Linked DNA regions of Homo sapiens: region 1 is linked to region 2. The links come from fine-mapping of genetic effects on gene expression. A gene starts in region 2. The other region holds a variant in brackets. All regions are shown on one strand. Distances are between the middles of the regions. Region 1 overlaps MIER2 (MIER family member 2). Region 2 holds the start of PLPP2 (phospholipid phosphatase 2).

Region 1 (5,364 bases), 26 kb after region 2:
ACGCCTGTCATCCCAGCACTTTGGGAGGCTGAGGCGGGCGGGTCACCTGAGGTCAGGAGTTCGAGACCAGCCTGGCAAACATGGCGAAACCCCAGCTCTACTAAAAATACAAAAATTAGCCGGGCGTGGTCATGGGCGCCTGTAATCTCCGCTACTCGGGAGGCTGAGGGAGGAGAATCACTTGAACCCGGGAGGCAGAGGTTGCAGTGAGCCAAGATCGCGCCACTGCACTCCAGCCTGGGCGAGAAGAGCGAGACTCCGTCTCAAACAAACAAACAAAACAAGAACACATCAGACAACAAAGCAGGTCTACACACAGCCGATGTTAAGAGTCAGCACACGAAGACTTCAATCTAACGAGGATTAATACGTTAAGGAAATGGACAAAACGCCGGAGAGTCTCAGCAGAGACTTGAAATTTATAGAAAAGAATCTCAAGGACCTTCCAGGACTGGATAATACAATACCCGAATGGACCCACTGAACAGCTTTTTTACCAGCAGCCTGAACACAGCACAAAACACAATTAGTGGAATCAAAAGGAAACCAATGTTTACAAGACCAAAACCAAAGTGTAAAAGGAAAGAACACCGTTTAGGGTAGTACAAGACAGTGAGGCAACCTCTAAGATACGTGTAAATGAGTGACAGAGAAAGCAAAGAAGGAGGCAGCACAAAATCTGAAGAGGTAACAGCCAAGAATTCTTCAAAACTGACGACTGATACCAACCCACAGAGCCAGGAAACTCAGGACGAATACAAGGACACACGAAGACGTGTGCACAGGCACAGGAGAGCCAAACTGGTGAAAAACAAACAAATAAAGGAAAGGAAACAACTCTTAGGAGAGAAAAGGGCACAATGACTTCAGAAGAAAGAGTAAGACCGTCCTCTGACTTCTCAACAGAAACGATGACAGCCAAAACGCAATGGAGTGAAATTTTTCAAGTGTTGAAAGAAAACACCCTGCAAACCTGGAAAAACATGCCATGAAAATATGCTTTAAAGAATGAAAGCAAAAATCCAGGCTTTTCAGACAAAAAAATGCTGAAAGAAAGCACAAGGCCTATTACAAAGGAAGTTCTTCCGGCTGAAGGAAATGATTCCAAATGGAAGCTGGAGGAAATATGTGGATAGGATAAATACAAAGAATGTTCACTGTTTAAAACAACAATGTTATCATCTTGTGATATGTAGATTTTTTTTTTTTGGAGATGGAGTCTTGCTCTGTCCCCCAGGCTGGAGTGCAGTGGTGCGATCTTGGCTCACTGCAACCTCCATCTCCGGGGTTCAAGCGATTCTCCTGCCTCAGCCTCCCGAGTAGCTGGGACTACAGGTGCCCACCACGCCTGGCTAATTTTTGTATTTTTAGTAGACACAGGGTTTCACCATGTTGGCCAGGCTGGTCTCAAATTCCTGACCTCAGGCAATCTGCCTGCCTCGGCCTCCCAAAGTGCTCGGATTATAGGCATGAGCCACCACAGCCGGCTCATATGTAAAATTAACGATAGCACAAAAGGCAGGGGGCAGGTAAATTGAGTTAAACTGTTTCTTGCATTGTAGGGGAACTAGAATGTACTTATTTCAAGCTGTGAGGCCCGGTGTGGTGGCTCACTCCTGTAATGTCAGCACTTTGGGAGGCTGAGGTCACTGGAGGTCAGGAGTTCAAGACCAGCATAGCCAACACAGTGACACCTCATCCCTACTAAAAATACAAAAATTAGCTGGGGATGGTGGCGTGTGCCTGTAGTCCCACCTACTTGGGAGGCTGAGGCAGGAGAATCGCTTGAGCCCAGGAGGCGGAGGTTGCAATGAGCCGAGATCACACCACTGTACTCCAGCCTGGGCGACAGAACAAGACTCTATCTCAAAAAAAATGTAGACTGTGATAAGTCAATAATTCATGTTGTAACCTCTAAAGCGCTAAAACTAAAACTTATAAGCTGAAACAGAAGGACAAAATAAACCTATTAATCCAAAAGAAGATATAAAAAAATTAAAAAACAAACAACAGGCCAGGTCCAGTGGCTCACGCCTGTAATCCCAGCACTTTGGGAGGCCGACGTGGGCGGATCACGAGGTCAGGAGATCGAGACCATCCTG[G/A]CCAACATGGAGACAACCCATCTCTACTAAAAATACAAAATTAGGCCGGGCGCGGTGGCGGGCACCTGTAATCCCAGCACTTTGGGAGGCTGAGGCGGGCGGATCACGAGGTCAGGAGATCGAGACCACCCGGGCTAACACGGTGAAACCTCGTCTCTACTAAAAATACAAAACATTAGCCGGGAGTCATGGCGGGTGCCTGTAGTCCCAGCTACTCAGGAGGCTGAAGCAGGAGAATGGCGTGAACCCGGGAGGCGGAGCTTGCAGTGAGCTGAGATCGCGCCACTGCACTCCAACCTGGGTGACAAAGCGAGACTCTGTCTCAGAAAAAATAAATAAATAAATAAATAAATAAATAAATAAAATAAAAATACAAAATTAGCCAGGCATGGTGGCGGATGCGTGTAATCCCAGCTACTTGGGAGGCTAAGGTAGGAGAATCACTTGAACCCGGGAGGTGGAGGTTGCCGTGAAGTAAGATCGCATCACTGCACTCCAGCCTGGGCAATGAGAGTGAGACTCTGTCTCAAAAAAAAAAAAAAAAACAAACAAACAAAAAACAAAGAACAGATGGAACACACAGAAAGCAAAGAGCAAGATGGTGGCATTACACAATTGTTTTATAATTACATGACATACAAGTGATTTAAAAAATGTACATGGACTAAAAAGTCTATTAAAAGACAATGGTTTTCTCAGACAATTAAAAATAAGATCTAGGTCGGACACAGTGGCTCACACCTATAATCCCAGCACATTGGGAGGCCGAAGTGGGCAGGTCACTTGAGGTCTAGAGATTGAGACCAGCCTGGCCAACATGGTGAAACCCCATCTCTACTAAAAATACAAAACTTAGCTGGGCATGGTGGCGGACGCCTGTAATTGCAGCTACTTGGGAGGCAGAGGGGGAAGAATTGCTTGAACCCGGGAGGCGGAGGCTGCAGTGAGTGGATATTATGCCAATGCACTCCAGAGACTCCGTCTCAAAAAACAAGATCTAAACATGTGCCATTTACAGAAAATACACTTCAAATATAGGAATCTAGAATGGAAAAAAGAATGGGAAAAAACCATGCAAACACTAAACAAATCAACAAAAAGCTGCTGTGGTCACACTGATGGCAGATTAAGTACTTATTTACGGTAAGAAGTGTTACTACAGAGAGACACGTCACAATGGTAAAAGAAACAATTCAACACAAAGACAAAGCAATCTTAACGTGTATGCACTTAACACAATGTGAAGTAAAAATGGACAGCATTAAAAAGGGGAAATAGACAATCCACAATCAGAGGAGGTCATTAACAATCTTTCAGTAAATAGAACAAGCAGCCAAAAAAATTAAGTGAGAATACAGATGATGTGAACAACAATTATCCAGCGGATCCAAGGGAATACACGGAAAATTCCACCCAACAACAGCACAGCACACTCTCTTCAAACACGTACAACATTTACCAAAACAGATCAAATAATGGACATAAAGCGAGGTGCAACTAATTACAAAGAACTGAAATCACGGAGTATGTTTTCTGACCACAGTGTAATTCAATTAAAAATCAGTAAAAGGAGGCTGGGCGCGGTGGCTCACACCTGTAATCCCAACACTTTGGGAGGCCGAGGCGGGCAGATCATGAGGTCAGGAGATCCAGACCATCCTGGCTAACACAGTGAAACCCCGTCTCTACTAAAAAATACAAAAAACTAGCCGGGCGTGGTGGTGGGCGCCTATAGTCCCAGCTACTTGGGAGGCTGAGACAGGAGAATGGCGTGAACCCAGGAGGCGGAGCTTGCAGTGAACAGAGTTCACGCCACTGCACTCCAGCCTGGGCCACAGGTGAGACTCTGTCTCAAAAAAAAAAAAAAAATCAGTAAAAAGGCTGGGTGCTGGTTCATGCCTGTAATCCCAGCTCTTTGGGAGGCCAAGGTGGGTGGATCACCTGAGGTCAGGAGTTTGAGACCAGCCTGGCCAACATGGTGAAACCCCATCTCTACTAACAATACAAAAATTAGCTAGGCGTGGTGGCGGGCGCCTGTAGTCCCAGCTACTCAGGAGGCTGCGGCAGGAGAATCGTTTGAACCTTGGAGGCGAAGTTTCCAGTGAGTCAATATTGCACCACTGAACTCCAGCCTGGGCAATAGAGCGAGACCCTGTCACACACACACACAAAAAGTAAAAAACAGAAATCCAGCAACAGGGAGACATGAACAAGGCTAAAGTTAGTCCTTTGTAAAGAGTAATACAATTGATAAAACTTTTTGTTTTTGTTTTTGAGACGGAGTCTCGCTCTGTCACCCAGGCTGGAGTGCAATGGCGAAATCTTGGCTCACTGCAACCGCTGCCTCCCGGGTTCAAGTGATTCTCCTGCCTCAGCCTCTCCAGTAGCTGGGACTACAGTTGCGTGCCACCACGCTCAGCTAATTTTTGTATTTTTAGTAGCGACAGGGTTTCACCATGTTGGTCAGGCTGTTCTCAAACTCCTGGCCTCGTGATCCGCCCACCCCAGCCTCCCAAAGTGCTGGGATTAAAGGCATGAGCCCCCACTCCTGGCCTCTCACATCTTAAAGAATAATTCCTCCAGAGGTTAGGAAAAAGGCACACTTCCAAACACATTCACGAAAGCAGCATAACTCTGGTACCAAAACCAGACACGGACAAATAAAAATAAAAGGACAGGCCAGTACCTCCATGAACATACATGCAAAAATCATAAATGTGAGCACATCAAACTGAGGAGGGAAGGGATTAAATACGTATATGTTGATTTTCATTAATCCAGGTGCTCACAGCGAGCATGTAATCACTGCACCAGGGGATACACAGCATTTTCATCAAGCAATCAATACATAAACTTGTTTCAGGTGTCCACTTAAAGACGCCTTACTGCAGGCCGGGTGCAGTGGCTCATGAGTGTAATCCCGGCACTCTGGGGGGCTGAGGCGGACAGATCACTTGAGGCCAGGAGTTTGAGACCAGCCTGGGCAACAAGATGAAGCCTGGTCTCTACAAAATAAACAAAAAAAAAATTAGCCGGCGTGCAGTGGCGCACATCTGTAGTCCCAGCTACTCGGGAGACTGCAGCACGAGAATCACTTGAGCCCGGGAGCAGAGGTTGCAGTGAGCCAAGATTGCGCCACGGCACTCCAGCCTGAGCGACAGAGCAAGACTTTGTCCAAAAAACTAAATAGATAGATAGATAAATAAATAAAATTTAAATTTAAAAAATAGATACGTAAATAAAATTTAAATTAAAAATAAAT
Region 2 (5,362 bases):
CTGCCATGGCACTGGGGCTCCTGGGGCCCTGCTGAGCTGAGGGTGGCCAGGGAAGCAGGAGTCATCTACGGAGAACGGGGCAGAGGGCAGGCGCACAACAAAAGCCCGGGTCGGCTAGCCCAGAGACAAACCAAGGCAGGGCATCCTTTGGCCCAGCAGGGCAAGTACAAAAGGGTGTGGCTTTTCTAAGTTCTGAATGTCAGCGGAGGGGCAGGGAGCCCCACACTCCTCCCGACATGCTAACTCCAAGGGCCCTAGGACACCGTACACCTTCCATGCTGGCTAAGTCTGGGGAAATAATCTGGTGAAGAAAACAGAGGCCTGCCTCACCGAGCAAGAAAGGTGAGGGAATGCAGAACAGAATGGGCAGGCCCGGCGTGGTGGCTCAGCACTTTGGGAGGCCGAGGCGGGCAGATCACGAGGTCAGGAGATCGAGACCATCCTGGCTAACACGGTGAAACCCCAACTCTACTAAAAATACAAAAATTATCTGGGTGTGGCGGTGTCCCAGCTCCTCGGGAGGCTGAGGCAGGAGAATCGTTTGAACTCAGGAGGCAGAGGTTGCAGTGAGCCGAGATTGCACCACTGCACACCAGCCTGGCGACAGGGCGAGACTCTGTCTCAAGAAAGAAAAAAAAAGGGCAGCGCCAGGGCCTGGAGGCAGGGCAGGACGGCGGAGAGGGCGGGATGTAAGAACCTGCCTTCTGCTCCCACACAGGAGGGGCTGGAGCTGCTGTGAAGGGAGAGGCCTTGGAGGAGGCTCCTGCAGTTGCCGGCCGGGTGGAAAGTCAGGGTTACGAGATGCCCAGAAGGGAGTGCAGCCCGACCACAGCTCTTATCGGGCGGAGGCTCACACAGGTTAGCCTCCGTTTCCGACCTCCCTGCCCCAGCAACTCCAACTAGAGACGCAGGCACCCCCATAACGACAGGCGCCGGGCTTCCCTCGGCCTGGAAAGCTCTCCCTGGGGTCCCCAAAACAGACACCTTCTCTTCATTTAGCCCCCGGGAGCCCTCCCGCCCTCACACTGCCCTCATGCCAGCATCTGGAACCTCAGTGTTGACTGAACTGTGGTGTGCTCAAGCTTCCAGCATAGAGGTGCACTCGGCCTGGCCACCACCCCTGGCACACAGCAGCAACAGCCAACCCCATCTCGGCTGTACCTCCCGCTGCTGTGTGACCTCCGGCAGGTGACTCAGCACCTCCCTCACAGGCTGTTGTAAGGGAAATGTTTGTTATTTGCATGTTGCTTAGTTCCTGGCATACAGAAAGTGCCACCTAAATGTTTACATAAATAACACCATAGGTGCTCAGGAAATGGTACCACGGGCTGGCAGACACCCACAGGGACTTCTTGCTGTCACCTGGCCCACCCTAAAAAAGGGTCTCCTTCCGGAGGTAAGAGGACTTGGCCTCTGCTGTGAGATGGCAGAGAAGCAGGAAACACGTTGGGGAGGAGGGCACCCCCCAGAGATAGAATTCCAGGGCCATTGTCTGTGCAGCCACAGAGCAAACACTCGGCCTTTGTTCCCGGGACCCTGCGGGAGGGGGGCCTCGGGATGCCCATTCCGCCAGTGTGGCCCGCAAACCCGCCGGACAGGTTTGGTTCTCCTGGCCTCCCGGCCCCCCGCCACCCCGTTCACCCGAAGCCTGGGACCCAGCCTTCATCCCCAGTGTCTCCCCCGCCCGAGCCAGCAGGGCGGCTGGGCCTCCCCGCACGTGCACGGGTTCGAATCCCGCCGACGCACCGGGTGCCAGGACCGAGGGTCAGCCCTCTCCGCGCGCAGCGGGAGCGCCCACCCCAGGGGCGGAGGCGCGGACGTCCTGCCGGGGTAACCCGCGGCCGCCCCCACCTCCCGGGCCCGCGTGACTCACCTCCCAGGCCAGGCGGGGCGGGATGGAGGCGCGCGCGCGGCCCCTCCGCACAGACTTCCTGCTGCCGGGGCGGGGGATGCTGGCCCCGGCTCCCCGGGCCTCTCGCGACCCCCATCCCCCTGGGCCTGGGACGCGGGGACCCCCGAGCCTGGGAGGGCGCGCGCAGTGCGGGGCGCGGAGGGAGGTCTGGTCCTCACGCGAGGTCCCCGCCTCCAGGGTCCTCGGAGGGACGAGGGCGCGCAGCCTCCGCGTTCCCCTGCAAACTTGCGCGCAGCCGGGGGCGTGTCCGTCCCGGGAGGGTCCCCCCAACACCCGGGTCCCCAAGGCTCTTACCGACCAGTAAGCACAGCACGTCGAGCAGCACGAAGACCCACCTCCGCTGCATGGTCCCCGCGACCCCCGACGCCGGTCCCAGCGCGTCCCGTCGCGTCCCGGCCCGGCCGCGGAGTCACGTGGCGCGGAGCCCGCCCCGCGCGGAGAGGAGGGGAGGGGCGGGAAGGGGAGGAGGGGAGGGGCGGGGAGGGCACGAGGGGAGAGGTGAGGAGGGGAGGGGAGGGGAGGAGGGAGGGTTAGGGGCGGGGAGGGGAGGAGGGAGGGGGAGGGGAGGAGGGGAGGGCTAGGGGCGGGGAGGGGAGGGGGGAGGGGGAGGGAAGGGAAGAAGGGGGGGAGGGGAGGAGGGAGGGGGGACGGCAGCGGCGGGCAGGGGAGCAGCGGGGGGGGCGGGGCGCGGCGGACCCGGGACCGCGCGGACTCTGCCCCCGCCTGGCCGCGGCGCCCAAAAGAGCGGGTGGGGCGAGCGTGCGGGCGCCACGGGGACCTCGTCCGCCCGGAGTCCCGGCCCTGACCCGGGCTGTGCGGGTCTCCGAGCGGCGTGAGGTCCTCAGAGGCTGGAGGTTCCCCGCGGGTCGGGCCGGCGGAGCCCCGGGCGGGGACGTGGAGAAGGAGGACGAGCAGCGGCGGGACCGGCCCCGCGGGACGGTTCCCGACTTTCCTCCTCAGGGAGTGGCAGCCGCGCCGTGTGCGCCTGGAAACTCCGACAGCAGGAGGCACCTTAAAGTGGAAGGGGCGACGTGGCTTCATTTCAGGAGTTTCTTTTCTCCTAATACTCAAAATCCTGGCGCGTCCTTGGACCCCTGGCACGTTAGAAGCTCGAGTTCCTCGGCACCCACCTTGCGACGGCGTAGGGTGTCCAGGCGCAGCCCTGTGCCCAGGCACCGTTCCTATCAGCGCACTTGCTGTCCCATTTCACAGAAGAGCACGGGGGCGCCAGGAGCTGGGAACCCCATGAAATGGCGCCGGGGTCTGTGCCCCCACCAGGTCGTGGGGAGCCCTGAGCTGAGGGTGCCTGGGGATTGAGGGCACCTGAGCCAGGGAAACCCAGGCCCAAGGGACCCACACTGGGTCCTTTCGGCTGGGACCATCCGGGAGGCCTCAGGAGTGTCAGACCCACGTTTCCGGAGTCCAGCCTTGACCTCTGCCACTCACGGTCACTTAAATGGGAAGTGGCAGGCCTGGGGTCAGAAACAAGGCTGCTGGGCCCCAGATCCGCTGCCACCCTGACCCTCCTCTAAAACCCGTTCAGCACCACCATCAGCCCCCTGCCCCAGCAACACCAAAACAGGGTGCGTCTCAGCAACTGGACTTCAACTGGGAGCTCCTCGACCCTGCTTCCCGGATGGTCAGACACCTGCACGTGGGGCAGGGGGGCATCATGAGGGAACTCCAAGGGCAAGGGGCTCTTGGGAGACAGCAAAGGCACCCAGAGTGGTGCTGGGTGGGAAGACGGTGCAAGCTGACCTGTGGCCCTCCAAGGGCAGGGTTGAGGTGCTCCCTTGCTGCACTCACGGTGGGGTGGGGGGGCTCTAGCTCCCGTCGGAATTAGGATTGTGAGGGTTCTGGTGCCTAGCATCAATGCTACATAAATGTAGGGTTCAGCGTCACTACTGCGCTTTCCCCCACACTTCACCCTGTCTGCAAATGAGTGACCACTGCTGTCAGTGTAGTCTTGACAGCCAACGCACATTTTCTCCTAAGATGGAGAGGGTGCAACATCTACTGGAGTCAAGGAAAGGCGGTGTTCTTCATTGAGCACCTACTGTGTGCTGGGGAGCAAGGGAGAGGTCACTTGGAGGGGCCTGCCAAAGTGGGAGCGGGGGGAAGACAGTGGGGGCTGTGGGATGGGGCCAAGCCAAGAGGGAGAGACCCAGGAGAGGGGTGGAGGTAGACCTGGGAGGATAGAGGGTGGAGGTGAGGCTGCAGGCTGTTCCCCCTTCCATCCTTCCCCTTGGGTCAGGATTTGGGTTAGCCCTTAAAATCCCTGGGCAGGATAAGGATTAAAATCTGGTGGGGAAAGCAAGAATTAGGATTAGGGTCAGGATTGGGGTCGTCTCCTACATATGCTGACTGCAGCCCACCACACTTCAAGGAACTTCTTGTCACGGCTTTCATAGCTGGATCTGCTGCTGCCCCCAGCTGCCTGGTCCTCCCTTCCAGGAAGAACCTGAGGCCAGGGCAGCTCCCAGCAGGGACAGAGCCTGGCCTGGAGGCCAGGCCTCAGTGGCTTTCTCCTTCACCTGCAAATAGCAGAGCTGGAAGCGGGTGGTGGTACATGTACCCAGGCTGGGTCCCCTAGAGACAAGCAACCCCTGAGGGCCAGGTCGCCACTCCCAGGCAAGCAAGCTCACGGGTTCAGCAACTGCAGCTCCCGCCTCTTGCCCAGCACTGGCTCTGCCACCTTGGTGCCTCATCGCAACCTGGATGGCTCCGGGCCTGTTTCCAAATGGACTCTATGGAGACTAAGACACCTGTGAAGTGGGCAGAAGGGGGCCTGGCACACAGTAGGTGCCACCTAAGTGCAGCCAGCCACTATACCTGCCGTTGCTTTCTCTGCTTCTCTGGGACTTGAGAGGTGAAGTACCTTGCCCAGAGTCAAAACGGGAGTTGTCTCCCAGGTTCCTGGCACGGGGCTCTTGGAGTCGAACGAGTGCCCGTCAGTGGGTTTGACGTGCAGGCAGTGGGCAGGGAAGGCTGAGGGGGTGGATGGTTTGGAAAGACATCTAAGGTATCCCTCAGTCTCTGTCTGCATAAAGGCGGCAAGACAGTAGCTACCACCTGGGATTGTAGAGAAGATTAAATAGTTTGTGAAATGCTTGACCCAGGGCCAAACATTAGGAAACATCATTTGAGGGTTAATTGAACAAAATACAGTGTGGGTAGGTATCACGTGTTTGCTGGGTCAAGATGTAGAAGGTACTTCTTCCTGGGGTCAAGATTTAAAAGGGTTGGAAACCGCTGCCTTCAAATTCACAATCCAGGACCCACGAATTCAAAATTCCCCTCGGACTTTGCAATCCTTGGAGTGCCTCTTAATTTAGTGTAACCTTACAGTCAGTCAGGGACAGGGTAACCCTCCGGGTTTCAGCACCGCGAGTCTGCTGTGCTCTGTCTGTGAGGAGGTCTTCACTGGGTCACAGCAAAGAAAAACACACA

Evidence for each region. PIP is the estimated chance that this variant, and not a neighbour inherited with it, causes the effect. A credible set is the group of variants that fine-mapping cannot tell apart.
Region 1: its variant is the best candidate, but not a certain one, in a credible set for the expression of PLPP2 in visceral fat (GTEx, PIP 0.70).

Annotation. Positions count from the first base shown.
Region 1 is chr19:315,101-320,464 of GRCh38, forward strand. The region is part of intron 7 of MIER2 (MIER family member 2); the gene reads right to left. Among named protein-coding and RNA genes, the nearest start is that of PLPP2, 26 kb to the left of the region's middle. The variant G/A (reference allele first, on the strand shown) is at 2,103.
Region 2 is chr19:289,079-294,440 of GRCh38, forward strand. It overlaps PLPP2 (phospholipid phosphatase 2), which reads right to left and starts at 2,325. Exons shown (of 6, transcript NM_003712.4): 1 at 2,207-2,325. The coding sequence starts at 2,258. RefSeq lists enhancers at 823-1,521, 978-1,491, 1,522-2,219, 4,919-5,362.